Homo sapiens: one gene and its partners. The protein of the gene in region 3 purifies or fractionates together with the protein of the main gene of each other region. This does not show direct contact. Each region holds a gene or a part of one and is shown on either strand. Other genes may lie near its edges.

Region 1 (7,023 bases), on a different chromosome or scaffold from region 3:
TACTAAAAATACAAAAATTAGCCAGGCATGGTGGTGTGCGCCTGTAATCCCAGCTACTCAGGAGGCTGAGGCAGGATAATCACTTGAACCCGGGAGGCAGAAGTTGCAGTGAGCTGAGTTTACACCACTACACTCCAGCCTGGGCAACAGAGCAAAGCTCTTGTCTCAGGAAAGAAAATAATATATTTAAAAACAAAAAAAAAGGAAAAGGAAAAAAAAAGAAAGCTAAACTTCAAAACGTCGGCATCATGAGAACTGTTTCATTTTTTTTTTAATCACATGACAATATAACAACAGTCTTGCAGTTGAATTCCTACCCTAACTTTCTGGTTCTTATAAACAAGCACCACCCAATACTTTAAAGAAAAAAAAATACACTGTTGTTTGAAATTCATATCACATCAGTCTCAACCTTCCACAATACAATTCTAGTTTATGTTTAGAACCATTAGCCAGTTAGAATAAGACACCCTAATTGGAACAATTAAACTTTGAATACTATCAGGTTTTAGAGGACACCTTTTTTTTTTTTTTTTTTTGAGGTCTCACTCTGTTGCCTAGGCTGGAGTGCAGTGGCCCGATCTCGGCTCACTGCAACCTCTGCCCTCCGAGTTTAAGTGATTCTCTTGCCTCAGCCTCCCGAGTAGCTGGGATTACAGGCGCCTGCCACTGCGCCCGGCTAATTTTTGTATTTTTAGTAGAGACAGCGTTTCACAATCTTGGCCAGGCTGGTCTTGAACTCGTGACCTCATGATCCACCTGCCTTGGCCTCCCAAAGTGCTGGGATTACAGGCGTGAGCCACCGCACCCAGCCTAGAGGACACCTTTCAAAATCTAGTTATACTAATGACTTAAATCCTCCAATTACAATATCAAAGGTTTATCACAGTATGAATTACAAAAATGATTGATGCTTCTGTTATTCATTAAACTCTATCATCTTTATGGTTCCCTGTAAATTTGAAATAGTTAGAAATAGGACCACCACATCATAAAACACAATTTTATAGGGATTAACTGCTTGTTCATTTGAGACTATTACAATAGTTAAGAGTATAAACTATTAGACTCAGGAATTTCCTAGCACTTCAGGTCTAAGCTGAGAAGCTTTACTACCTTGCCACCTGTCTTTAACTCTCCAAATCTTCTTATGCAGCTAAGACAATAGACCAAAGACAAGGCTTTATCTCAGCTCACAAGAGCACTGATTAATATTCTCTCACATGCTTTGCAAACCTACCACACTGTACAATGCTTCGAAAGCGGAGATCACAAGCTGGTCCAATCCCATGGACTACAAAAACCAAGTGATCTATTTGTAAAGGTTCTCCTATAAATGAAATTAAAAAGAAAATTATTCTGTATAATTAGTCATGTATTCTAATATCATTCATCATGAAAAGGTTATAAATATGAGCAAGTTAAAAGATGAACAGATAATTTAAAAGATACAAAATAGTCCTTTAAGTACCTAGCAAAAATACACTGATTTTACTTGGTTTCTAATTTATCTTGAAATAAGTCTGTAAAATTTTTTTCAGGACTTTTTTCTTTTTTTTCTGATCTCTGAAAAAGAAAACTCGGCTGGGCGCGGTGGCTCACGGCTGTAATCCCAGCACTTTGGGAGGCCAAGGCAGGTAGATCATGAGGTCAGGAGTTCGAGACCAGCCTGACCAACACGGTGAAACTTCATCTCTACTAAAAATACAAAATTAGCCGGGTGTGGTGGCACATGCCTGTAATCCCAGCTACTCGCGAGGCTGAGGCAGAAGAATCACTTGAACCCTGGAGGTGGCAGAGGTTGCAGTGAGCCGAGATCACACCACTGCACTCCAGCCTGGGTGACAGAGCAAGACTCTGTCTCCAAAAAAAAAAACTCTTTTTTTTTTTTTTTTAAATTATGGTTTTTTTTTTGTTTGTGACAGAGTCTTGCTCTGTCACCCAGGCTGGAGTGCAGTGGCACGATCTTGGCTCACTGCAACCTCTGCCTCCCGGGTTTAAGCGATTCTCCTGCCTCAGCCTCCCGAGTAGTTGGGACTACACGCACACGCCACCACACCTGGCTAATTTTTTGTAGTTTTAGTAGAGACAGGGTGTTTCACCGTGTTAGCCAGAATGGTCTCGACCTCCTGACCCGCCCGCCTCAGCCTCCCAAAGTGCTGGGATTACAGCCGTGAGCCAACACACTTGGCCTTTTTTCAGGTTTTAAAAACTTTTTTTTTTTTTTTTTTGAGACAGAGTCTCACTCTGTCGCCTAGGCTGGAGTGCAGTGGCATGATAAACACTCATTCCAGCCTCAACCTTCTGGGCTCGAGTGATCCTCCTGCCTCAGCCTCCAAAATAGCTGAGACTACAGATGTGTGCTACCATGCCCAGTTAATTTTTGTATTTTTTGTACAGACAGGGTTTCGCCATATTGCCCAGGCTGGTCTCGAACTCCTGGGCTCAAGTGATCCTTCCACCTTGGCCTCCCCAAGTGCTGGGATTACAGGCATGAGCTACCACGTGCAGCCAGGTTTTTAAAACTTTTTATTTCTAAATAACTAGAAATGTACAGAAAACTAGAAAGCATAGTACAGACACTCCCACATACTTTTTACAGAGATTCAACTTTTTAACAATTACATTTGCTTTATGATTCTCTGTGTGTGTACACACACACACACACACATTTATTTTTCTGAATCATTAGAAAGCAGACTACATACATCATCAGGTTGCATGCACCATACCTCTTTAACCCTTTAATACCATAATGTGTATTTCCTAAGTATATTATCTTACATAACCATAATACAGTTATTGAATCCAGGCAACTGAACATTGATAAAATACTTTTATCTAGTATTTCATTTTTATCAATGTTTGGTATGTTTTTAAAGCCTGAAATTTTAAACTCATCTTTTTAAATTACAGTAAAGCTAGGATTTTGTCCAAGAGACAAGAAAAAAGGAATATTATAATCCAATTAAATATATTATAAAACCATAAGTGACCCTACCTAGATAGCAGTGCATAATCAGGTCCTGCTGAAAAACAGTTTTCCTTAGTTGAAAATCTTCAAGGACAAGGAGTTATTACCAGGTATAAATTTCTAGTCAAGTAGGTGGAATCACACTTCTTGGAATTAGGACTAAATCAGTTCATCTGTACTTAGTGACTTCCTGGATAGTATTGCCAAATTTTACCCATCCTACCATATGTTTTAAAAGATATTTTTACATCTATTAAGATTCTTAGTAGACGAAGTGATGCTAATCTCAACTTGGAATAAACCCATATGATTAAAGATGATTTTTAAGCCTTGAGGTAATCTAAATCCACAGAAAAAGGTCACAATTTAAGGAGTAAACAAATACATCCAAAGGTAAGAAAAAATAAACGATTAACATTACCACAATGAATGTCAACAGAGATGTTCTCAACTCCTCTCTTCACAGTTCTTGGTCGACCCTGCTCCGTGGGTGTTGAACCCCAATCATCAGACCCTGCAACTGGCTGGTAATGCACCATAAGCTTAAACAGAACAGATCAGAGCAATAAAAATATTCTGCAATACAATCATCTCTATACAATGCAGTTTTAAGTGTAGAATCATGTCTTTCAAACCACACAGTAAAATCTGAACTGGAGTTTTGATATACAACTCGTATGGCTTGAAATGAGAACCGTGAAAATATATTAGGCTAACAGATCTGTCAATAGTCCCTTTCTACATGGAAGACATGCTCACATAATATGTCAGTGATTTTCTTATTCTACAGTGGCATAATTTTCCATAAGAAAATTATTTTGTATAAGCTGAGTTGGGTAAATAACAGTAGTGGCTACAAGTTTTTAAGTTTCATAACTGTGAATTCAATATAAAATTTGACAAAGGTTATCCTACACAGAGTGCTTAGCAAAAGAAACCAATTGAGTTCTCCCTAATAGCGCAATTAACTTTTTATCCCGACAAGAGAAATGCTTTGTTTTACCTTTGGATTGTGTAAAATAATAATTTCTCTGTTGGGAGATTCCAGTTTCTTTTTCCATTCATCCAAAGTTACAGCAAGCATGTAAGTTTCCTTAAAAGAAAACACATTTCATTAGAGTTCTCTAGTAGCTTTCCTATTAAACTGAACCTATTAACAAGAATACTATGTATTAATGAGTTTCAATAAGAATATCCTACTCCAATTTATCAAATTTATTTTTAAATCTTTTTGTTGTTGTTGTTGTTTGTTTTGTTTTGTTTGTCTTACTCTGTCGCCCAGGCTGGGTTGCAGTGGCACAATCTCGGCTCACTGCAACCTCCGCCCCCCAGGTTCAAGCAGTTCTCTTGCCTCAGTCTCCCAAGTAGCTGGGATTACAGGCACCCGCCACCACATTCGGCTAACTTTTGTAGTTTTAGTAGATACGGGGTTTGGCCATAATGGCTAGGCTGGTCTCAAACTCCTGACCTCAGGTGATCTGCCTGCCTCGGCCTCCCAAAGTGCTGGGATTACAAGCATGAGCCACAGCACCCAGCCTATTTTTAAATTATTTTGAAATTACAACTGATAGTAGCACCAGGACAAAGGGGGAAAAATACTCCTAATTCCATCATCTACGCTAGATAATTAGTGTTCACATTTTAATATATTAATATTAATGTTCTAGACCAGGCGTGGTGGCTCATGCCTGTAATCACAATACTTTGGGAGGCCAAGGCAGGAAGATCACCTGAGGTCTGGCATTCGAGACCAGCCTGGCCAACACGGCAAAACCCCATTTTTACTAAAAATACAAAAATTAGCCAGTGTGAGCCGGGCGCGGTGGCTCACGCCTATAATCCCAGCACTTTGGAAGGCCAAGGCGGGTGGATCACCTGAGGTTGGGAGTTCGAGACCAGCCTGACCAACATGAAGAAATCCCATCCCATCTCTACTACAAATACAAAATTAGCCAGGCATTGTGGCACATGCCTGTAATCCCAGCTACTCGGGAGGCTGAGGCAGGAGAATCGCTTGAACCCAGGAGGCAGAGGTTGCGGTGAGCTGAGATCGCGCCACTACACTACAGCCTGGGAAACAAGAGTGGAACTCCGTCTCAAAAAAAAAAAATTAGCCAGTGTGGTGAGGCACGCTTGTAATCCCAGCTACTTAGGAGGGTGAGGCAGGAAAAGTGCTTGAACCCAGGATGCAGAGGTTGCAGTGAGCCGAGATCGCACCACTGGACTCCAGCCTGGGCAACAGAGTGAGACTCTGTCTCAAAAACAAAAACAAAAACAAAAACAAAAAAAGCAAAAAAAAAAAACCAAAAACAAGAAAAAGGCTGGGCGTGGTGGCTCACGCCTGTAATCCCAGCACTTTGGGAGGCCGAGGCGGGCGGATCACGAGGTCAGGAGCTTGAGACCATCCTGGCTAACACGGTGAAACCCCGTCTCTACTAAAAATACAAAAAATTAGCTGGGCGTGGTGGCGGGCGCCTGTAGTCCCAGCTACTTGGGAGGCTGAGACAGGAGAATGGCAAGAACCCAGGAGGCAGAGCTTGCAATGAGCCAAGATCGTGCCACTGCACTCCAGCCTGGGAAACAGAACGACACTCTTGTTTCAACAACAACAAAAAATACTAACGCTCTACTCCAATTTAAAGAAAAATTTCAGTTTTCAGAGCAAGAAAAATAAAAGCTAAAAAAGATCAATCCTGTGACCATAGCATAATACAGTTTGCATTTGTATTTGTGTGTGTGTGTGTGTGTGTGTGTGTGCGCGTGTACTTTTTTTTGTAGTGGTGGGGTCTTGCTTTGTTGCCCAGGCTGTTCTCAAATTCCTGGGCTCAAGTCATCCTCCTGCCTTGGCCTCACAATGTGCTGGGATTACAGGTGAGAGCCACTGTGCCCACCAGTTTTTTTTTTTTTTTTTGAGATGGAGTTTTGCTCGTTGCCCAGGCTGTAGTTCAATGGTGCGATCTCCACTCACCACAACCTCCACCTCCCGGGTTCAAGCAATTCTCTTGCCTCAGCCTCCCAAGTAGCTGGGATTACAGGCGTGCACCACCGTGCCCAGCTAATTTTGTATTTTTAGTAGAGACGAGGTTTCTCCATGTTGGTCAGGCTGGTCTCAAACTCCCAACCTCAGGTGATCCGCCCACCTCAGCCCCCCAAACTGCTGGGATTACAGGCGTGAGCCACCAGGCCCGGAGTATTTTTTTCTTTTTTTACACCTTAAAACACCACAACCATTTCCATCGTATTTTAAAATCTGAAAAAGGCCAAGCACAGTAGCTCACACCTGTAATCCCAGCACTTTGGGAGGCCGAGGCCAGCAGATCATTTGAGGTCAGGAGTTCGAGACAAGCCTAGCCAACATGGTGAAACCCCATCTCTAATAAAAATCAGTAGGAACAACTCTCCCATTACAATATTTTCCTTTCAAGGATTGAAAAGGGGAAAAGAAGTACATATTTCAAAATAAATCTCCCAACATACAATTCTGAGTTATATTCTAAATAATGTTATGAAACACATGAATGAACAGTTCCTACTTGGCTAAACACCAAACAAAATGGAATCTAATTCATATCTTTTTCACTACCTACTTTACAAACCGTCAAACCATTCCTGATTTTAATGAAACATGAAAAAAAATACTACCCAAACAGTTTTGTTCTTTTTCTGAGGAAAGATAGCAGTGCCCCTTAAAAAAAATTAGCCAGGTGTGGTGGCGGCCACCTGTAATCCCAGCTACTTGGGAGGCTGAGGCATGAGAATCACTTGAACCGGGGAGGTGGAGGTTGCAGTGAGCCAAGATCGCACCACTGCACTCCAGCCTGGGCAACAGAGCGAGACTCCGTCTCAAAAAAAAAAAAAAAATCTGAAAATAAGACTACTTTATCCTGAAACTTGCTTGTAAATAGAAATGCTTTATTATGTTTTATAATGTGATGCAGACAGAACCAAAGTCTTTCTGGAAATTTCACAAAATAAATTACAAAGGAAAGAAAAGATTATTAAATAAGAGAAAGAAAGAATAAGTAAAAAAAGAGTCAAAAGAATACCTC
Region 2 (7,528 bases), 8.5 Mb from region 3:
CAGTTCTTGATCACGCTGCGAGTTTTGCACACAATGTTAGCACGCTGATTCTTCCACTGCCGGGAGGAGGCCCGGGGCTCTGAGGGCCGGTCCCTGCGGTAGTGAGCTCGTGGGGGATGAACGGGGAGCGAGTGGCCGCGGGGAGGAGCGAGAGGGTCGCAGCCCCGAGGGCTGTCCTGTGAGCAGGCTGCGGGGCCTGGCGCGCGGGGACCCGGGGAAGACGCTACAAGGCCTGGAGGCGCCGCGCCTTGGGACCCGGAGGAGGCCCAGGGCGGACACGTGGGGTGGCCTGGGGTCCCCCGCCCACGTAGCGCGGCTGCTGAAACTACATGTGCCCTGGGCTGCCCGCCGCCCTGAGCCTGAGGCCAGGCGGGTCAACGTCGCAGCACCGCGGGCTTCTGCCAGAAGGACATTTCCCCTCACCTCCTGACCACATCGGCCTTGGAGATGGGCGCGAAGCGCCTTACGCCCACAAGACATCCCTTTATCGGCTCTATAGCTGGGCGAGACTGAGGTCTCGGACGGAACGCGCGCACTCACACCCCATCCAGGAACTTCAGTGACACTCAGGGGTGCTGGCTCTTTGCTTTGCCCTTCGAGCAAGACTTGGGTAAGGGCTCCTCGAGCTTTCTGGTGCGGAGGCTTCCTGGGTCGGCCCGAGGCCTGTAGGTTCCCGGCCACTTCTTGCAGCTTGGCTGCGAGGGAGCGCTTCTCCGGGACCACTTTGGCTCGATAAACTAAAACCCGCGGGGTGTTCGTCGGAAGGATCCTGGGAGGCAAGGCTCAGACCCGCCCTCCCGACTCGCGGTGAAATCCAAGGCCGCGCCGCGCGCTCCCCACGGGGCACGGAGCCGCGCGCTGCTCTCGGCGCGCCCCGGGAACGCGCCGCAGCGGCCTTGGAGGGGCTGCAGTTCCTCTTCTCACTGTTCTTGGGAAGTCTTTCCTTTTCCGTAAACCTAATTTAGGAATCCAAAGGCACCGAAGCCCGTTAATGTCGCTTTTAAAGTGTCTACCAGAAAGAGCTGGAGGGAGGCTGTGGACAGGAATCTCCGGCCATGTTCGGGAGTAGACAGATGCCCTTGTGCTGAGAAGCGGGTCTCCCTTCTCCCATTCTCTCCTGCCGCCAACGGTGGCTGCCAGGCTGTGCCCTCCGCTTGGCACCCTGCCCCGCCGTCTCGGCTCTGCTCTCGACCACGGCGCCTGCGGACGGTTGGTTAGACCTGCCGGGACCGGTCCCTGCAGCTCCCAGCTAAGGGAGCATTCGTTAGCATTCGTTAAGCGAGGGACCATTGTCCAAAAGCCGGAAACCGATTACTTCCTGGACAGTTTTGGGGGTCGACTGTCTTCTGAGTTCCGGGAGCTACAAATGAGAATTTGAAAGAGTGGTGTATATAAGGAGACATCTTCCAGTCTTCCATATAATCAAATTCCATATAAACAAACTCAGATGTATAACAAAATTTTACATTCTTAGGCGCCAAAGTTTAAACGGGATGTAAATAACAATCCAATACCCTCCTGTGGCCCCAATGCTCTTTGTACATTCCAAAACTATCTACATTATATATGAGCACCCGAGAGACATGTTTCTCCAATCGCGAATTTGCAGTTCAAAATTAAATATGATTAAAATTCTGTATTATGCTTTACTTATGTTGGGTTTATTGTGAGTGTTAGGCTTTTTATACACATTAGGGCATTAATCCAAAGAGCTATCTTCCAGGTAGGAATGAACTATTGGCCCTATTCTAACGCAGATGAAGAAACTGAAGCTTTGAGAGGTTTAGTAACCTACACAAAGTCTCCGGGCTAATGCGTGTGTTAAAGTTAACATTAAGACTTCAGCAGCTTCCGCTGCCAGCAGTCAGCCTGAGAAGGGCCTAGAGAGATGTGTTAACGTGCTTGTTTTGTTCCAACCCCCGGGTGGTTTTACCTGTTAACCTGCGCTATCAGTGGCGTTTTGAAGGGACCTCAGAACTCCCCACTCTCCGCTTTGGGAAGGCTTTGAATCATCCTTCGACAGCACCTCTCTGCCCAGAACCGGTTCCCCGTTTTTATGGCATCATATTGATTTGCAAAGGCAATAAATCTAGGAGGAGGGACGGTGTGCCCCCGATAATAATGTTGCAGCATATGTTTTACTGCCGAGGTTTCAACACCAACAAGATGCATAGCCTAGAGATCCCCAAACGGGTCACCCGGATTTGTTTAAAGTGGCCTTTTCAATACCTCTCGTTTGCCGCCTGCCTCCTAACGATCACTCATCTTTTCTTGTATAGTATTTTACCTGTAGTAGGATGCGCAGTCGGGGTTTCCTGCACACAAGAGACACAGAGCTGGGCTAAGGCCGCGTAGGCACTTGGAAAGGAGGAGGAAACAGATTTGTGGCAATTCAGTTTTTCCCTTGCTTCATCAAATTTTCTGAAAATGTTCCTCTCATGATATTATTCATATTCCAGTCAAAATCATTGAGGTAATTAAGAAAAGACACAGTTGTTTTCCTCTGTGTAGAAAAACAATCAAAAGGGTTTTTTTATGAAGTATAATTTTGCGGCAAGTTTTTGAAAACTAAATTCAGCTAACAAGGTTTGCCACACCCTGTTGAAGCATATATCAAGGTCTAGACTAACCATAACATTCCCCGACCTTCCAAAATCCCCACTTCTTGAGGGAAATCTTTCTTTCTGGACAAATCCTAAGCATTTGATATAGGAAAGGAATCAGTGTGTGCCTTCCACTCAATACAAAGAAATGTCACTTACATTGAGAAGGTGTGTCTGGGGAGAGACAGGTTGGGGCGGGGGACTTTAATAACCAAAAAAGGGGTCTGGATTGGGTCTGGGTTGTCCAAAACCAGCAAAAAATTTAAGAATAGAAACGGATCCTCAGATGCATCCTGCGGTTTAATCTGAAAGCCCTCTGCTTGCCAGCCGTCGTTAACTCTACTCTGGCTCTTCAGCTAACAGCCCAGCCACAGCTGCAGGGCCAGGGGCTGATGAGGGTCGGGGCCCGGAGTGTGAGTCCTGCCCTTCCGTCTGCTTCTAGCCGCTGAGGTGGACTGGGGGGAGATGCGCGCTCTGCCACGTCGGGCCCTGTTTTTCTCTCTCAAACGCACATGGAGACCGGCTAGAAGACAGCGTAAATTCCTTCCAGCACCAAAGTCTATGGTTTTACGAATTTCCTCAAACATTTATAAATCGACACTTCGAACTTCGATAGTGATATGAGAATGCATTTTTTAGTCACCTTCATCCAGCACCTTGTTAAAAACTATTGACACACGATGACCAAGACAGGCTGAAATCACGACTCTTCCAGATGTCATCATTTTGTTCACACAAACGTTTTCGACAGCTATTTTAACTTGCCGTTTTCCCTCACAAATTTATTTCAGGAGTAGGGGGTGGTGCAGTGAAAAGTTGGAGTTTTAAAAATTATTATTATTATTTTAATTTTAAGACCCACGAAGAGGCTTCTAATAGCCAGACCGACTGGCTGGAAAAGAGAACAAATATTTACATATACAGCTTGAGTGTGTATGTCAGCCTGAGTTTACACGGCTCCAAGCGAAGCGGATTACCCTGCGAATTCGGAGAATTTGAGTTATTCAGGCTGAGCAGGGCTAACAGGACGCCCTCCAACAAGGCCGTGGGAAGTCCTCGTCACAGCCGCCTTTGTAAAACCAGAGGGGTCTGTGTCCGCTTAGTCCGGGCGCTACCATAAGGTTCGCACTCTCCCACTACGCGTCGCGTGGTTACCGTAGAGCTCCGCGCCCTGACCTTCGCCTTCTCTTCGGCAGCCGTCCCATTTTCCAGGGTCCCTCTAGGGAAAATAGGAGCCCCAGGCTAGAGACGCACTGGTGAGGAGCAGAAGCCACGGTTCTGAGAGCAGCATCCTTTGCCAAATGCCCGCAGCTCTCGCTAAGCTTATCTTTTTCAGGGCTGCATTTGCTCAGCCCCACTGTCAAAGAGATCAAATTTGGGACCATCGAATGAGAGTCCCAGCCCTGGGATCTGCCCCGAGTATGGACCTGGCCAGTTGGCGCCGGCTCAGAGGCGCCGGATTCTACTGAGCGCTTCCCTACTTTCTTTTGGAACTTTGAGCGCAGGTAAGAAAAAGAATGGAAAAAGCGAGAACTCCCGAGGCTTCCACTGGTCTGGTCATAGCTTCCCCAACTGGGCCATGCCCGGATCTCGGGCGTTAGGCCGCGGTGATGTGTCCTCTCCCGACAGCGCGCACCGCCCTCCCGCCCGGGGCTGTGAGACCAGGTGGGGATGTCCATGGCTGCTGCGTCAGCCTAGTGGTGGCACCCTTTTCCCTGAACCTGTGCTGGGGTACCGAACAGCCGGGGCGACAGGCCACGCGGGCGCCGCACCCTGGGCGCGCCCTCCGCGCCCGGCCCGCGGCCCCGCCCCCGGCGGCGGAATCAGGAAGCGGTGACGTGAGACGGCGCTGACTGGCTGCGGGCCTCCGGGATCGCCGCCGCCAGCAAATTAAGGCGCAGGGCAGCGAGCGCCAGGGCTCACTGTCCGTAGTTCCGCGCCGCGCTCCCCACGCCAGCGTCCTAGCAGCCGCGCTCGGCTGGTGGCCACCTCAGCCTGGGACATCCCGGCTGTCCCCAGCCCCAGAGGGAGGAAGGACGCGGAGGGGATGCTCCAGGACCCCAGGACTTTGTGCAGTTGATGCTCGTTTCCGCCTTCGGGCTGTGCAGACTGTCGTCCTGCCGAGCGCCCCGGGGCGTGCGCACCCGCCGTAGTGCTCGGTGGGCCCTCTCCTCTCCGGCTGCCTTCGAAGTCTCTGCGGCTCTGGGGCTTTGCGGTGGGGAATAGAGGCCAGTGTGCAGCTCTGGAGTCGTTGGAGCTGACACTTCTGGAGTCCCTGGCCCCGCTGTGACTGCTCTCGGAAACTTTGAGCTGTGTTTCGGGTCTTTGTCTCCCTTGGGGAATCTGGACGGCAGTTCGGACGACCCCGTCCCTGGCCAGGACCGCGTGCTGGGGACCATGGAGTTCACGGCGTCCCCCAAGCCCCAACTCTCCTCTCGGGCCAACGCCTTCTCCATTGCCGCGCTCATGTCGAGCGGCGGCTCTAAGGAGAAGGAGGCGACGGAGAACACAATCAAACCCCTGGGTAAGTTGGGCTACCCGGCTGTCCGCCGAGGACTGGGGATGCTGCGCATCCGTCTGTGCCCCTGGCTGCAGGCGGCTCGCAGCAACGTCTGATGCTCAAGCCATGAGCCATACATCGCGGGTGGGAGATCTTTTTCTTTTGGGTCCAAGTTTTCTTTGGAGGCTTCAGTCTGTTGAATGCTGTGAATGTGCATCTTATATCTGGGCCCGTCGGTCTCCTAAGTTGTCTAGAATCCATATATCAGATCAGACATATGGTGTGTGTGTATGTTTGTTGGGTTAAAAACATTCATGGAAAAATAATAATAAAACCCCTTTTAAGGCTCAACAGGATTTACTGTGCATGTAACACCTGCTTGTGCGTTTGAAACGGAGACGCTAAAGGACTTCATAAGAAACCAGTTTAATTTTGGTTTTCCTCTGACTTGAATAGACAAAACAGAGCAAGCTCTTTGAAACCACTGTAAAGCAGAATAAGCCAGTTCTCCCTACACGAACCATTTTATTCACTGAAGCTCTAGACTTATCACCAAGACATCATTTTATAACTGTCGTCATTTTCAGTTGAGGTTGGCAAAAACACTAACCAGTAACCATTTCTCAAATTCCTCTACTTTTAGTTATGTTGTTTGTTTAACAACCTTTACCATTTATAGAAGACACTAGGCTAGGAGTAAAGGGAGAACAGGGATTATGTTCTTCTTAACACTAGTGAATTACATGGAAAAGAACCACCCCAAGATAAATATTTAAGAATCTCTTTACAACTGAGGGAAAAAGAAGTGTTCTCATCATTGCCTCGTGGATCCCCAGGAAATAATTGTTACACAGCCTGATCGTCTGGTATCACTACAATGTGAAAATCAGATAGCAAACTTAAGTTAATTTTTCTTTTTTAACCCTCCCCAATTTTTCCTTTCTTCTCTCTGTCCTTCCCACACTTAACATATCACATCCAAAATAATGATAACATGAAAAAAAGGAAGTGTTAGAGATCAAAAATAAGGTGTTTGGGCTTAAAGATGAGAGAAGTAAAATTCCTGTAGCTACTTGAAACCAAGGAAAAAGAAACTAGTAGATCTGTAGAAAACAGAATGTCAAAAAAAAAAAAAAATCTGTCCTCTAAGTTTTCACCCCCTTCCCCTGGTTCTTCCCACCCACCTCCCATCTAAATCTAAACCTGCCAAAGAATGGAGACAATCAATCAAACAAAATCCAATTGTTTAGAAAAATATAACTAACAATTTCAAAGTTATATTGTGCGACTTCTCAACATTATACATTGCTGTTTAGGGGCCCCTGAATTCTTTGTAAACATCTCAGCTTGTTACATAGCAGGAAAAGAGGATTCCCGACAGAAGTGTAGACAGCAAATTGGGAAACATGCCAGCCCCAGCTGCACTGTCATTTCAACATTGCTTCCTTCTCTCTTTATTTTTCTGAGAAAAGCCACCTTATATCGAAAATTCTAAATCTTGAACTTTAAAGCCATGCCCAGCTCACAACTCCAACCCTACCCCCATGCCCACACACACATATAGGCACTAGTATAAAATGCATGTCCCTCTCCTGGCTTTTGAGATGGGCTCTGAAAGAACTAGCAGGCGTTCTTGTCGCTTACACTGGCCAGTTCAACAGAGGTGACTGCAAGCCAAGGACTCTATCAAGAGAAACACCTAAAAGTTCTGTTAAGAGAGAATGTGGGACTTTTGTTGAAGCAAACTATAGAGTGGGGAGGGGGATTCCAGTGTGTCCCAGGATTGCCCTTTTAAACATACAAAGTCTATTTAAAGGAACAGCTTCAGTCTGCTGAAGCATTTCTATTTCATTTTCTTCCTCTCCTACTTCCCATCCTGATGCATTGGTCAGTCTGGGGCTTAGGGAGTTTGCCTCTTTCAGTTGTCAGAAAAAAAAGTCATTAACACTACTTCTTAATTCCCTCCGAAGACATTATGTGAATGTGTTTCTGAAAATATTAGTAGAAAATAAGATTTTGTTATGGTATGGTTTCCTTTCGTTAATCTGAAAAAAATCAGGATGGCATTTAATTTGATTATTCTTAAGTTAAAACATTTTCATGGGTTGGATTATCATTGCATGAGAAGTAAAAGTAAAACCACTCTGTTTCCTGTTTTCTTCATGTACGGATGTGTAGGAAATAAAACACCTTATGATCTGTGCGTGTCCCATATGCCCACACACATCATGTACATGTACATACATACATTTAGAACTGGCTTTGATTTCTTGAGGGCACTTAAGAGATCAACTTCACATTGCAAATTCAAGTAGTTTCTTTTTTAAGGGATGGAAGATAATTGGGACAATTACAGAAGTCTCCCTGTATTCCATCAAAGTGACTGGTGTAGTCCCAGGCCCTTATCAGCTGTGGGGGAGAATGT
Region 3 (7,023 bases):
TAGTCAGATAACAGAACAGTGACAGAACAGATAACAGATAACAGAACACCCAAATGTGAGGAGGATGAGAACAGATGTGAGCCTCTCTGGGTCAGCTAGTTCATACACATTAACCCTAATCCTCAGAACCCTGGCAAAAAAAAAAGCTAGTATTAATTCCATTTTACAGACGAAGTGCCTGGAGTTCAGGGAGGGTAAAGCACCCTGCTTCACAGCCAAGGCACTGCGGCACTGCCCTGCAATTTCCAGACTTTCTGGTTCTAGACTCAAACCCAGGCTGTGCCAGAGGCCTTGACAGGTCCTGTCTTACATTCACCCAGAGAGCTTCAAGGATAAACAGGAGACCTGGTGTCCAGTCCTGTCAGTCCTGAACTACCCAAGCAACAACGACGGTCAAACGGGTCATAGGCTGTAGGCTGAATGGTTGGACTTCATCTCCAAGGTCTGCTCCAGCTCTAAATTGCTCTCTGGTTCCCAGAAAAGGAAATTCAGGTAACTCTTATAACAGGCAGAATGATACCCTCAGTCATGATCACAGAATGTAAATTCTGATTATAGCAAGAAGGCCTATCTGACTGACAGATCAAAATGTTTGCCAGAGTGTGTTGGTTAAAGTGTGGTCAGGAATACACTCTGATATTATTGGGGGACTACAAGTGGGTAGCATCTCTGTGGAGGGTAGTGCAGCAATAGCTCTTAAAATTCCAATCTGACCTAGCAATTCTACTGCTTCCTATTTCTTTCTCCAGCCCCCAAACTACATTCAGAAGAAACTGCCCTGAGTCCTTTGACCTTGCAGAAATCTCACTACTACTTGCTCTCCCTTTCTTTTTTTTTTGTAATTAACATATCTATTTGTAACTAATTTAACTTTTCCAAATTCTCATTTGCAAATGAGATTCATATAGTTAAAACTGAATATACAAACAACATATTAGGAGGATCAAAATTTACACTACTCAAACATGACTCCTTAAGACTGACTTTAACATGTTCTTTCAATTTTATTCAAATCAGATGTCCCCCCTCCAGCATTTATCATTTTAAAAAATGAATTTAATGCTATCAAAAGGTGATGTTCACTTTAATCCTGTTTGCCTTCATGTCACTGTCATGAGCCTTCATTCCAGACCACATACATAAAGAGGGCCAGCACCACATGGCCGGTGACCACGGCAACAATAGCAGCATAAAAACAGCTGTCCTTATTGGATATCCCAAGGGCGCCTCCAGATATATAAGATTTAGTTGTGAAATATAAATAACCCGATAGGAACAGTGATCATTAAAGCTGTGAAGAACAGGAGCGTCTTCAGTGTAGATGCTAATGAGCTTTCTTTTCCGAACTTAGGAGGCTGCAGTGCGTTCAGCGCCACTTTATCTGGGTGCTCCACAGTGTAGTTGTGCTGGCACAGGTGCTCGGTGGCAGGCTACTTGCTTTTCTTTTCTAATGAGATCTTAGAGGAAAGTTTTCCTATAAAAGTGGCCTACAGAACATTACTTATGAACTTTATTGTTTTCCTACATAATCTGGGGAAAGCAAAACAAAAGAAAACAAACAAACGAAAGGATGTGGAGAGATGCATATGCACGAGAAAGAAGCCTAAATGGAACTCGTACACTGGGCATCAGGGGTGTACCACCTAGAATAAGTGGCATTGCTGTTTATTTGTTTATTTTTCAGGGTCAGGGTTTTGTTCTTTAACACAGACTGGAATGCAGTGGCACGCATGATCACAGCTCACTGCAACGTCGAACTCCTGGGTTCAAGTGATCCTCCTGCCTCGGCCTCCCAAAGTTCTGAGACTGCAGGCATGAGCCACTGCACCTGGCCACATTGCTGTTTTTAAAGCACATTCAGCTGGGGTACCCCAGCTAGTTGCTCACAGAGCTGTGAGTGACTGGCAGGACCTGCCATGGTCACATAACTGTAACGGCCAGACAGATCCTTTCTGTGCTGTTTCCCCTTCTGCTTTCAACTCCCCCTTACGATAAGATGCACCGTCAGGAGAGGCAGCAATCCCAGGCCAAGCGAGATCTGGCTCCACCTTCCAACTCTCTGCCTGCCCATCACACAGCTCCCTCTCCTTTCCTCCCCATTGTCTGGCCAGGACTAGTTAAACTCTGAACAGAATCAAGGAGGAACTTTATTCTGTATTTTAATATATCTTAAAATATCTAAGACCTAATCCTGTAACAAAAAGGTTTTGGTTTGTTTAGTTTTCCTTTTTTTATTTAAATTTCAAAGGTGTACTATTTAAATGGTCAAACACAAAAACATTCTATTTTCTAACTTTTAGTATTATGCTGAGAAATATTTTCCCAAAAGACTTATATTAAATAGATACATTTTTATTTTCTTTTAGATTTTTAACTTTTTTTTTTTTTTTTTTCCCTGAGACAGAGTTTCACTCTTGTCACTCAGGCTGGAGTGCAATGGTGGGATCTCGGCTCACTGCAACCTCTGCCTCCCAGGTTCAAGCCATTCTCCCACCTCAGCCTCCTGAGTAGCTGGGATTACAGGCGCCTACCACCACACCACCACGCTAATTATTTTTAGTAGAAATGGGGTTTCGCCATGTTGGCCAGGCTGGTCTGGAACTCCTCACCTCAGGTGATCCACCCACCTCGGCCTCCCAAAATGCTGGGATTACAGGCATGAGCTACCACGCCTTGCCTTAACTTTTCTTTATTTACATTTTTATTTTTTAATCAAATCTAAATAGTATTTTGGTATATGGCATGAGATAAGGCTCTAAATTTACATTTCTCCAAATAGTTGAGTTGTTTCTACATTATCGAATATTTAATCCTTTCCCCCAGTGACTCCACATTTAAATTTTTATGAATACAGTTATTCTTTTTTTCACTTTTTTCTGCTGTATCACAGACCTCTATTCCCATGGTTATAACATACTGTTTACATGATTGTGGCTTTACAGTGTTTCAATACCTGGTAATTCAAGTTCTCTCATTAATTTTAGAACATCTTACCAAGTTAAAAAATTCCACTGGGACTGTGACTATGATTGCATCAAATTTATACATTAAATTAGGGTGAATTAATAAGCCTTCCCATCCAGAAACATGGTATGCCTTTCTAAGAGCAGCCAATTTAAAAATAAATAAATAGGCCGGGTGTGGAGGCTCACGGCTGTAATCCTAGCACTTTGGGAGGCCGAGGCGGGCGGATCACTTGAGGCCAGGAGTTCAAGACGAGCCTGGCCAACATGGTGAAACCGTGTCTCTACTAAAATTACAAAAATTAGCAGGGGGTGGTGGCACGAGCCTGTAATACCAGCTATTCGGGAGGCTGAGACATGAGAATTGCTTGAACCCAGGAGGCAGAGGTTGCAGTGAGCCGAGATCACACCACTGCACTCCAGCTTGGGCAACAGAGCAAGACTCTGTCTCTAAATAAACAAATAATTTAAAAAGAAGAATCTTGAGTTAGTTCCTGAATTATTGCATAATGACAAATAACAGCTCAGGCTGCAGTGACTCACTAGAAAGTTGAAAGAAAAAAGTCAACACCTTTGCAGAAACAACTTGCTTGAAGCAATTTAAAGCAGGTTTCTCCTCCCCCCGTATCTACTGCAGCCGGTCTGCAAAACAGTCTTGGAGTTTGAGCCTTTATTTGCTTTGACTCCGAAACACAACGGGCTCAGGTGCACACAGATGAGCTATCTCTCTAGAGGGATGAAGAGCCAGCCTGTGACCCCAGAGAACAGAGTTCTAGACCTGGCTTGGCACCCACTAGCTATGTGATCAAGAGCAGGACACGGGGTCCCTTGTGCCTTAGTTTCTGCACCTTGAAATAGAAGAGGGGGCAGATGAACTTAGATGACCCTTATGTTCTCTTTCTGTGCTAACATATCACTTTAACCCACTTTACTTCTTTTTTTTGCGGGGGGTGGGGGGTTCTCTTTCGGTTTAACTTTCTTGGTGTCTGGCTTGGTTAACTGAAGGTTTTTAGCTTCTCTTCTGGCTCCGCAAGCAAACTAGGTTGAGGCTCAGGTTGCAGCCATCAAGTTCCCAGGCACAAAGGTTCTGTACAGATAGGGCTTTTCCTTGGTACTCTGCCAAAGAGAAGCCACTCTCTTCCCCACCCCACTTTCCAGCCCCTATCTGCTCTATGTCCCTCCTCTACCTCCTCCTCACCACTTCAAAAGCTTCTACCTTTTACTGAAAGTGATCTTAATATAACAGGAGAGAAATGAGATGAGGTCAATTACTTTCACTAAAGTCTAGTGTATTTAAACTTGGAAGGGCATAATCACGTTTGAAAAGAGCTGCTTATTAACTCAAATAATTGTAGAACAATGTGTAACTCTATTTCAAAATAGGGTTGAGAGCAGAACTTTCTGGAGTCCCATACCTGTTCTTGGGCACTGACCACTCCCAGAAGGTCCAGATCATAACTATGTTCCCTTAGTGCTGAAAGATGATTTCTGCCCAGCCGAGTGCTACAGGAACTGCGTACACAGGCACAACTCACAAGTGCGGGGGCGGGGCGGGCAGGGGAAGGAATGCAAATCTTCCACACGCCAGAATATGTGTGGGTCTAACTTTTGTTTCTAACATTTTAAAAGCTCAATAATTATGCTTTCAAAGATCTCTAGAGAGAACATCTTTCTTCAGCAGATCGAGATTTTTTACAAGCAAGATTTCACAACGTGTTATCTGCATCCTCAATATTAATTACATAAATAATTTTATTCTCTACACTGACTATATCATGTTCTTTCACTGTTTTGTTTTCCTTTAGATTTTTTAAGGCGCTCCAAGTTCTCAGATTTCAGGTGAGGAACTTCAAGGCCTTTTCAAAGTCTGAGGTTTTCTGAGTTTGTAAAAGAGAAACGGCTAAGTTACAAGAAAAATCATTACGTATAAATTTGACTTATATAAAATATTCAACTATTCACTCAGGCATCAGCAAATATTTGTTTTAGCACAACAAACAGCACACATGAGTTGAAATATGGTGGACAGAAAACAAACCTAAAGAAATCCTGTAGCACCTAAAAAGAGAATGACACGACATTACTTCATGAAACAGAGCCAGGGGTCAAAAGCAGTAGTGGCCCACGGGTGCGCAGTATGTGCTTTGTTTTTCAAAAACATTTTTTGCCTATTTCCTTTTATTCCCACAATATCCCTAAGAAGTAGAGCGCCCCCCGTGCCCCAACCTTCATTCTGCAGAGGCAGAAAGACATTGGATCCCTTGCTGATGGTGGTCCCTGGTGGTCCCTCCTCAGCAGGCAGGCTGACTGTACTCTTAGCATCCAGCTGGGTTTAGCCAGTGGAGGAGATCGGCAGGCAAGAAACAGAAAGAGAGAGGCTAGGGTACTTGTGCTCCCCCTGCCTGGTTCCTCAGGCTGCTGCTCTGGCAGTGGCTGCATTCTGTGATGGCCACAGCAGGTCTGGAAGGGAGTGGCTCCTCCAGCAGTATTCCAGCCCCCTCCTCCCAGCTCTGGTCCCCTCCCTACCCCTTCAAACCAGAGAGGGGATGGTGCCCACTGAAGCTCTTCCCTGTGTGCCTCACCATCACTTGTTGGCTCCTCCAATCCTGCCCACTCTTCTATAAAAAGTCTCCTTAAAATTCCTTTCATTTTTATGCTTTTCACTGTTGGGATTCCCAACTGATAAACTTGGCAGTATATCAGTTTGCAGCATCCCTGGCCTTTCCCCACTAGATGCCAGTGGCACATACCGTTTTCCCCCCAGCACGACAATCAGAAATGTCAGTAACAACTACTGGGTTAAGGGCCGGGCACGGTGGCTCATGCCTGTAATCCCAGCACTTTGGGAGGCCGAGGCGGGCATGGGGCTGATCATGAGGTCAAGAGATCGAGACCATCCTGGCCAACATGGTGAAACCCCATGTCTACTAAAAATACAAAAATTACCTGGGTATGGTGGCGTGCACCTGTAGTCCCAGCTACTCGGGAGGCTGAGGCAGGAGAATTGCTCGAACCTGGGAGGCGGAGGTTGCAATGAGCCGAGACCGTCCCACTGCACTCCAGCCTGGGTGACAGAGCAAGACTCCATCTTAAAAAAAAAAAAAAAAAAAAAAAGGAACTACTGGGTTCATGGAAATCACTAAATTATTGCTGACAAAGCTCTAGAGTTTCACATTCCAATTTGCACGTGGGAGAGATGCAAAATCTCACAGTAAATTAATAGCACAGCCAGGACTAAACAGCTTCCTTGGCTTACATTATGTTTCCCTTTTGATTTCAGTCTCTTTCCCACATGCAAATTGGAATCTGAAACTCCAGAGCTTTGTCAGCAATAAATTAGTGATTTTCATTAACCCAGTATTTCTCACCAACATTTCTGATTGTTGTACTCGGGGGGAAAAGGGTATGTGCCATTGGCATCTAGTAGGGAAAGGCCAGGGATGCTGCAAAACATCCTGTGATGCACAGGACACCTTCCTACCCCAACTACACATACACAAAGAATTATCCAGCCCAAAATGTCAACAGTGCCAGAGTTGAAAAAGCCTGGATTACACATCATGCAGAATGAACTACAGCTGTGACCTTCCTCCTTGTTCCTCCTCAAACGCCCTCTCAAGTATCTATTATTGCCCCAAAGCCAGGTGACTCACAGAAGTATGGGGAAGGATTAGGGAGAGGGTGACCCTCTCAGGTGGGGCCAGCTGCCAGCCTCAGAGGTCTAAGGGTAAAGGTAAAAGCAACTCTTGCCCTGGAGGGAGTTGGATACTTTGGGATCTATTGAGAAAAATATAATAGCTACATGGGACACAAGTCTGGAAATATATACATCAAAATATTACCAGTAATTATGTCTCTAAGTGGTGAAACTTTTAGTGACTACTTTCTTTTTGCTTCTCTGTACACTTTAAACTTTTCTATAAAGATTAGTTAACATAATTATTCAAAACTCTAAAAAACATTACAAACTATGCCACTTTCACTGACTGCATCCCTCCTAGCCCCAAACTGAACAGACTTTCACAGGGCAATAACATATCAAGGTGCTCTGATAATGAAG
Region 4 (7,023 bases), on a different chromosome or scaffold from region 3:
GTGCAGGGGGATGGGGCACAGAAAGGAAGAGAGTAGGATGAGACTGGAGAAGCAAGCAGAGCCATCACTAATGGGTTTTAAGTAGTGAAGTGACATAATCTAATATATATATATTTCTTGCTCTGTCACCCAGGCTGGAGTGCACTGGAGTGATCATAGTTCACTGCAGACTTGAACCCCTGGGCTCAAGGGATCCTCCTGCCTTCAGACTCATGAGTAACTGGGACAGGCATGGGCCACCTTGCCCAGCTAATCTTTAAATTTTTTGTAGAGACAGGATCTTGCTATGTTGTCCAGACTAGTCTTGAACTCACTCAAGTGATCCTCCCATCTCAGTCTTCCAAAGCGCTGGGATTTTACAGGCATCAGCCAGCATGTCCAGACTCTAATTTATATTTTAAAAACATAATTTTAGCTACTGTGTACAAAGGAGGATTGGAGGGGGCAAGTGTTGAAGCATGGTGACTGGATAGAGACTACTGCATAAATCCAGTTAAGGACTGATGATGGTTTGGACAGTGTGGTAGTGGTAGGAGATAAAAAGAAAAAATGAGCTGTATTTGGAAGGGGCACTAGCAAAACTTAGATGTGGGGAATGAGAGAAAGAGAGAAGTCTAATATATTGAAGCTAGGTTTCTGGCTTTAGGAACTGAGTTACTAAGAGGTGCCATTTACTGAGATGGGGGAAGACCAGGAAAGGACCAGGTATGGGAGGCAGAAAGTCAAGAGTTCCAACTTGGACATCTTCAAGTAAAAGTGAAAACAGAACCTTAGAAAGATGCATTTAGAAATTAGAAAGATGAGTAGGGAGAGAGGAGAGTGGCAGGGACCAGAAGCAGGGAGACCAGGGAGAAAACTGGTGCCACAGCCAAATTGCGGGAGAGTATGGAAGTGTGAACCAGAGTGCGGACAGGGAACCAGGGAGGAGGAATGAAAGGACGTGGCAACAGCCTGGATATGGTGGCTAAGATGGTGAAGTCAAAGATGACTGAGGTGGAATCTTCATGACTGCAAGGGTGTTCCCACCATTAGGAGGACCATGTCATGGTTCGGAGGCACTGCATCTAGGTGGTGATGTCAAACAGGCAGTTGAAAATAACTCAACTCAGAACTGGATGTCTGCTTCTTACAGAATAATAATGAAAGTGGTTAAACTTGCCAAAGAAGAGAAGAGAGAAGGAAGACTATTTGTACAACCCTGGGAAGGCCTCCACATTTACTAAGTTAAAGGTGATTCAATGACGTTCGAGAAACAAGAGAAAAGCCAGTATCTAGGCCAAGGGAAGAAAGAATTTCATTTTTTTTCTTTTTTGTTTTTTTTTGAGATGGAGTCTCACTCTGTTGCCCAGGCTGGAGTGCAGTGGCGCCATCTTGGCTCACTGCAACCTCTGCCTCCCGGGTTCCAGCGATTCTCCTGCCTTAGCCTCCCAAGCAGCTGGGACTACAGGCGCGTGCCACCACGCCCAGCTAATTTTTGTATTTTTAGTAGAGACGGGGTTTCACCATATTGGCCAGGCTGGTCTCGAACTCCCGACCTTGTGATCCACCCGCCTCAGCCTCCCAAAGTGCTGGGATTACACCCGCTGGCCTCCCAAAGTGCTGGCGTGAGCCACCATGCCCAGCAGAAGAAAGAATTTCAAAGAGAGGCTTGTTAACACAGTCAGATGCTTTCGAAATATTCAAAGAGGATGAAGGCCAAGAAGTGGCCACTGAATGTAGCAACTAAGAAGAGGCCACTAGTGACTGGAGAAAGTGGGAGGGTGGTGAAAAAATACAGTTGTCACATGCTAAGGAATAAACAAGTGGGTAGGGGACAGACATGAATGTAGCTCACTGGCACAGTGGCTCATGAGTGTAATCCCAGCACTTTGGGAGGCCAAGGCGGGTGGATCACTTGAGGCCAGGAGTTCGAGACCAGCCTGGTCAACATGGTGAAACCCCATCTCTACTAAAAATACAAAAACTAGCCAGCATGGTATGCACCTGTATTCCCAGTGACTCAGGAGGCTGAGGCATGAGAAGCACTTGAACCTGGGAGGTGGAGGTTGTAGTGAGCTGAGATCACGCCACTGCACTCCAGAAGGAGGGTGTGGGAGAGCTGGGGTAGGGGAAGTCACATGGTGACTGAGGAAGATGCCATGTGAAATGGAAAGGTCACCCACACCTGGGAGAAATGACAAGAGGAGAGGGCTGAGAAGGCTGGAGGAGGATGGCTACAGAGCAAGACCCTTCTCAAAAAAAAAGTCTGGCGATAGATGAGAGAGAAGACTGTGTGTGACTCCAGCTGTGAGTATATGTGTGGCACAGGTTCACAGGCTTTCAGGATCCCTCTCTCTGACCCTAGTCACTGATGCCCCAGACTCTCACTCACCGCCAGCTCCTGCCGTATGTGTTCTGTGGTTGCCTCCAGGGCCCGAGTGCCTTTGGTGGCCTCATCTTCCACGGCTTTTACTGTCTTAAGCAATGATGTCACATTGGTCACCATCACCTGGAGGTATCAGAGGAGTGAAGAGGAATGATTTTAAGGAACAGGAGGAAGTATGTTAATCCAGTGCCCCTCCTGATGTTGCTCTCATTCTCTCCAACCTTGGCAGAGTTCTTTAGCTGCCACACAGCAGGGTCATCTCCAACTTTGCCAGCTGCAGCCTTCGTTGCACTGATGAGGTCTCCCAGGGCTTTGGCTACATCTTTCACTGCGTTGATTAGTACCACCTGTGTGGGAAAGCGTTGGCTCTGGTCTATGGGAGGAAGAAGCGGGACAGGAAGTGATTCCAGCCGGAATTAGGGGCATCAGGTCACTACCTGGGTCTCAGGGTCCTCAGCTCCCAGGCTGGCTGCACCCAGCTTGACCACATCAGCGAGGCGGGTGATGGTCGCCACGGAGGACTGGGCAGCCTGCGCCAACTTCTCCTGGCTCCCAGCTGCGTTTTGCACCAGGACCTTGGTGTCCTCCACCAGCACCTTCGCAGTCTTCAGGATGCCCTCCCTGAGGGAGGGCCCAGCTTAGTCAGATCTCCCCTACCCGCTCCAGCCCGTCCAAGGTGCCTGGTCCAGGTCTTCCCCATTCCAGCGAATGCTATCCTGCCTCTTCCAGCCCCGTGCCCCGACCTGTCTGCCTCCCTTAGGCCCAGTTCCTGTCTTACCGGTGGTCAGCGAAAGTTTCAGTACCCTCACGATTGAGCGTGCCAGCAGTGGCGAACATGATGGTGGTGTCGAGGTCAGCAATGATACCAGACACAGCGCTGGCTGCTGTGATGCAGGCCTGGGTGCCACGATTCCCAGCCTGGAGCGCAGCCAGGACGTGGGAGACCTGGGTAGGGAATGTCACATGGTGACTGTGGAAGGTGCCATGTGAAATGGAAAGGTTGCCCATGCCTGGGAGAAGTGACAACAGGAGAGGGCTGAGAGGGCTGGAGGAGGATGGCAAAGGCTACAGAGTTTGGAGGCAGTCCCACCATCTGCAGGGATGAGCACCGTCACCTTCTCAGAGACTCTCCGGGCACACTCTATGAGCTCCTTCTTGGTGTAGGCATCACTGGGGCTGCACTGCAGGGCGCCTGCCTTGGTGACCAGAGCGGCACAGCCATGGCCCAGCTCCTGTACCCGGTGTTTGATATGGGAACCTATCTGTGAGCCAAGGGAAAGACAGATGGATTTTACAAGGGGCACTCAGGGTACCTTCACTGTGCTTGGAAAAGTCACTAAGGACATAGAAAAAAACATGCATTGTAGACTAAAGAAGCAGAGAGAGAAGGTTCCCAGCACAAGGACGTTTCCGGTTGCATATCCTTTAGGCAGAAGGTCACCTCCTACACACAGAAAATAGTAGCACGCAGGCACTAAGTGGTGAGGATTGTGTTAAGCACAGTGGGGAGAAGGGGAGGAGCACTTTATGCTTGAATGTGGGAATCAGAGGGCCGTGGATTACCATGTGGCCTGTATGGGGTTATGGAGGGTTTTAAGGATGGGCATTACATGTGTCCTGCTAAGATCCAATTACTTGCTTTCTTGGAAAGCTAGAGGCTTAGGTAAGGAAGAGCTTCATGAGTTTGCAACAAGAAAGAACAAGAACATGGACTGGCAGCACAACAGAGAAGCAGCTGTAGGCCCAGATGAGGGTCGGCAGAAGCCAGAAAGGCAGGCCCGGGAAGGCTCCAGATTCTGAGCTGTTTCCTTTGTACCTGTGACTGAAGGCTTTGATCCTCTGTCCCTACCCAGAGCCTCACTAGTCTTCAGCAGAGTGGCCCTGAGGCTGTTCCCCTTTCTATGAAAGACCAGAGAGGGTGGGGGTGGGACAGCCCTAGACACTGACACATCAGGAACAAGGGGCAGGGGGCAGGGCAGAGTTGCCTCCACGTTTACCTCTTCATTTTCAGCAGCCACCGCTGCAGGCTTGGCCTCCGAGGCCAGACGGCCATAGTCACTGGTCAGCTGGTTAGCAAGAGGGCCCAGCTCCTCTGGGCTGGTGTTTGACTTGGTAACCTGGTGATAATGGAACGAGTGAAGTTATATCCAAAGTCAGCTCTCCGAGGGCAGTCCTCTGGGACTCGCCCAAACTCACCATCTCCTGAACGGTCACTGCAATGGCCTTGGCTGTCCGCACCATAGTTGTTTGGTAATCCACGAAGGAACCTTCTGGTTCACCCATTGGTCCTTCATCTAGCTGAGGGGGGAGGATAGGGAAAGGGAAAGACTGTTAGGGTCTCTGCCACTGTGCTTGGAGGCTCTGGCCCAGGGTAGCCTCAGTGTCCAAAGGCACCCCAAGACTCTAACCTGGTTGATGGCCTGGGTGATGGAGTCCACCATGCCACCCACGACCCCAGCAGCACTGGCTGCCTCGTTGAGGGTTGTTGTCAGGTCCTCTACGGCCTCGGTCATCATCTGCACAGCCTCCTCCAGGGCTTCCTGGGTGTGAGCTGCTTGCTGTGGGGAGAGGAGAGGAGCTCTGTTGTTCCTGTTTCTCCAGCCTCCTGCTAGTAACAGCTCCTCCCTCCCAACCCTCAATACCTTTGGGTTACCACCAGCCTCCTTGGCAGTGTATAGCAACTGCAGGGCAGACTCTGCCAATGTTTTAGTCTGGTCCAGGAGTGCCATCTGCTGCGGGTGGCTCAGGGTCTTGGAGGCAGCACCCACTGCAGCCAGGGTGAGCGGCTCAAAGTACTGCGCCATCTGGGACACCTGAGGCAAGGGGTTGGACTAGGGGTCAGGTCCCCTCTCTCTCACCCTACTCCCTGGGACTTCCCATGAGTCTCCATAGGTACCTTGTGTCCCAGCTGGGAGGCTTCAGCCCGGGCAGCATTGGCCAGCGGCTCAATGAGATGGGAGATCTCTTGGACTGCAGTGAGCATCTGAGTGTGCAAGGCCTGGGGAGGAAGTGGACATTAGCCCTGATGGTGACCTGCAATAGGACCCTCTGGCTACAAAGAACTGCTCTTCTGTCCATACCAAATACCCTAACCCTCCTTCGCACATCCCAGCCTTTGATGTCCCTAAGAAGCCACTCCTTGATCCCCCAGCTTCTTTGAGTCTGATATTTCTCTTCCTAGACACATCTTTCCATATAACCCTCTCCCTCTCACCTCTTGAGAGATTCCCTCACGGGGAGCAAGCTGCTGGCTGACTGCAGCGAGGGAAGCCTGGTCTAGGTCCCGTAGACAACTGTTCAGAGCTGCAATGGCCGTTTCACACTCCAGCTGCCCTGGAGCCTTGTCCCTGCAGACACATCATGGGCTCCAACACCAAGAACATCCCCTACTGCAAGGCCAGCCTATCCTTCCCCTGTATCCTCCCAACACCATCCCATCTCATTGCACTCAAGTGCCCATCCTCCATTCTGCCACAATGTATGCCCCCCAGCCACACTGGTTCCCCATCCCTCAATACCTCATGCTTGTAATTAGCTTCTTGATGGAGTCTGAGACAGTACGGGAGTGGCCGGCCAGCACCGACCAGCTCGGGGGGTCCCGGGGATTGACTGCGAGGGCCCGGGCTGTCTGGATGAGTCCCCCGGCACTCTCTAACATTGTCTTGGCAGAGATCACAATGGGCTCCATGGCAGCCCGACCCTGGGGAGAGGGGAGGCAGGAAGGTAAGTCTCAGGAGTCCCTGGAAGATGAGGTGATAAGCTGGCCCATCAGTTCCCCCTTCACATCGCCTCACCTCAGGGCTGATCTGGGCAGGAATGCTGGAGAACTCAGGGTTGGACGCAAAGGCACTCAGATTGTCCACAGCCTCCAGCAGAGGGGCTGTTGCTGCTCGGCACTGGGCACGGTTCTCCTCTGTGAAGGCCCCATCTAGCGCCTAGAAGTGACAGAGAGGCTCTCAGGACTTGGGATGCAGTCATAGGGGGTATAGGAAGTGAAGTCCAGGTCTCCTTCCTGGGACTTACAGGATTTGGGGAGAGGCTAGGTGGTCAGTCTGAATAGAAAGAGCTTGGGCTCAGGCAGAGGGGATTTGGTAGAAGGCTTCAGAGAATAACTGGGGGACTCGGGGGAGAAGATAGGACAGGTCAGGGAGAGGCTGGGAATTCAAGCAATGGGAACCTTGATGGTCTTGACAAGATTAGCTGTGCTGTTGGCCACCTCCTTGGCTGACTGTACAAACTGGCGCTTGGCAGTAGGATTGGTGGTACGGGCAGAAGCCAGGCGACAGCTGTTACACAGTGCAGAGGTGTGTTTAGCCACAATGGTGGCTGCAGAGAGCACCTGAGGAGACACATGGAAGAGCCACGATGAGGGCAGGAAGGAGGTGTACATACCCAAGGAGGAGCCATTTTAGGGTCAGGGGATGGAGAGCAATACCCTGAGGAGTCAAAACAGGAATAACAGAGTCACCTGAAAAGTCAAGATCTAGGAGACAGAGATACCCAAAGATGAACTGGGCATGGGAGAGGAAAGACATACTAATGGAGAAACCATAAGAGGGCATGTGGGAGAGTAAGCTCGAACATCTACAGAGAAGTTGTGAATTTAGCAGTAACTGATAAATGATGAGACCCATGGCAGAAAAAGACAGTTACCCAAA

The links.
Region 1: the proteins of BLVRA (region 3) and DDHD2 purify together in Homo sapiens (affinity purification with mass spectrometry; 3 studies listed by BioGRID and IntAct, with this or other methods). This does not show direct contact.
Region 2: the proteins of BLVRA (region 3) and TBX20 purify together in Homo sapiens (affinity purification with mass spectrometry; 3 studies listed by BioGRID and IntAct, with this or other methods). This does not show direct contact.
Region 4: the proteins of BLVRA (region 3) and TLN1 purify together in Homo sapiens (affinity purification with mass spectrometry; 3 studies listed by BioGRID and IntAct, with this or other methods). This does not show direct contact.

What each region holds. Positions count from the first base shown.
Region 1 is NC_000008.11:38,234,582-38,241,604, reverse strand, and holds part of DDHD2 (triacylglycerol hydrolase DDHD2), read right to left. Parts: coding exon 7,021-7,023; intron 4,068-7,020; coding exon 3,978-4,067; intron 3,517-3,977; coding exon 3,396-3,516; coding exon of another isoform or gene 3,334-3,395; exon of another isoform or gene 2,513-3,333; intron 1,331-2,512; coding exon 1,241-1,330; intron 1-1,240. UniProt on the Homo sapiens protein: Diacylglycerol (DAG) and triacylglycerol (TAG) lipase required for proper lipid homeostasis in the central nervous system. It cooperates with PNPLA2/ATGL in neuronal TAG catabolism and hydrolyzes sn-1,3 DAG downstream of PNPLA2/ATGL.
Region 2 is NC_000007.14:35,251,093-35,258,620, reverse strand, and holds the start of TBX20 (T-box transcription factor TBX20), read left to right. Parts: upstream 1-4,520; 5' UTR 4,521-5,000; coding exon 5,001-5,127; intron 5,128-7,528. UniProt on the Homo sapiens protein: Acts as a transcriptional activator and repressor required for cardiac development and may have key roles in the maintenance of functional and structural phenotypes in adult heart.
Region 3 is NC_000007.14:43,761,661-43,768,683, reverse strand, and holds part of BLVRA (biliverdin reductase A), read right to left. Parts: intron 6,054-7,023; exon of another isoform or gene 5,910-6,053; intron 4,480-5,909; exon of another isoform or gene 4,379-4,479; intron 1,431-4,378; exon of another isoform or gene 981-1,430; intron 1-980. UniProt on the Homo sapiens protein: Reduces the gamma-methene bridge of the open tetrapyrrole, biliverdin IXalpha, to bilirubin with the concomitant oxidation of a NADH or NADPH cofactor. Does not reduce bilirubin IXbeta.
Region 4 is NC_000009.12:35,701,189-35,708,211, forward strand, and holds part of TLN1 (talin-1), read right to left. Parts: intron 6,705-7,023; coding exon 6,543-6,704; intron 6,301-6,542; coding exon 6,160-6,300; intron 6,066-6,159; coding exon 5,884-6,065; intron 5,713-5,883; coding exon 5,580-5,712; intron 5,364-5,579; coding exon 5,262-5,363; intron 5,179-5,261; coding exon 5,008-5,178; intron 4,924-5,007; coding exon 4,774-4,923; intron 4,664-4,773; coding exon 4,562-4,663; intron 4,483-4,561; coding exon 4,363-4,482; intron 3,628-4,362; coding exon 3,481-3,627; intron 3,311-3,480; coding exon 3,144-3,310; intron 2,987-3,143; coding exon 2,803-2,986; intron 2,713-2,802; coding exon 2,587-2,712; intron 2,489-2,586; coding exon 2,372-2,488; intron 1-2,371. UniProt on the Homo sapiens protein: High molecular weight cytoskeletal protein concentrated at regions of cell-matrix and cell-cell contacts. Involved in connections of major cytoskeletal structures to the plasma membrane.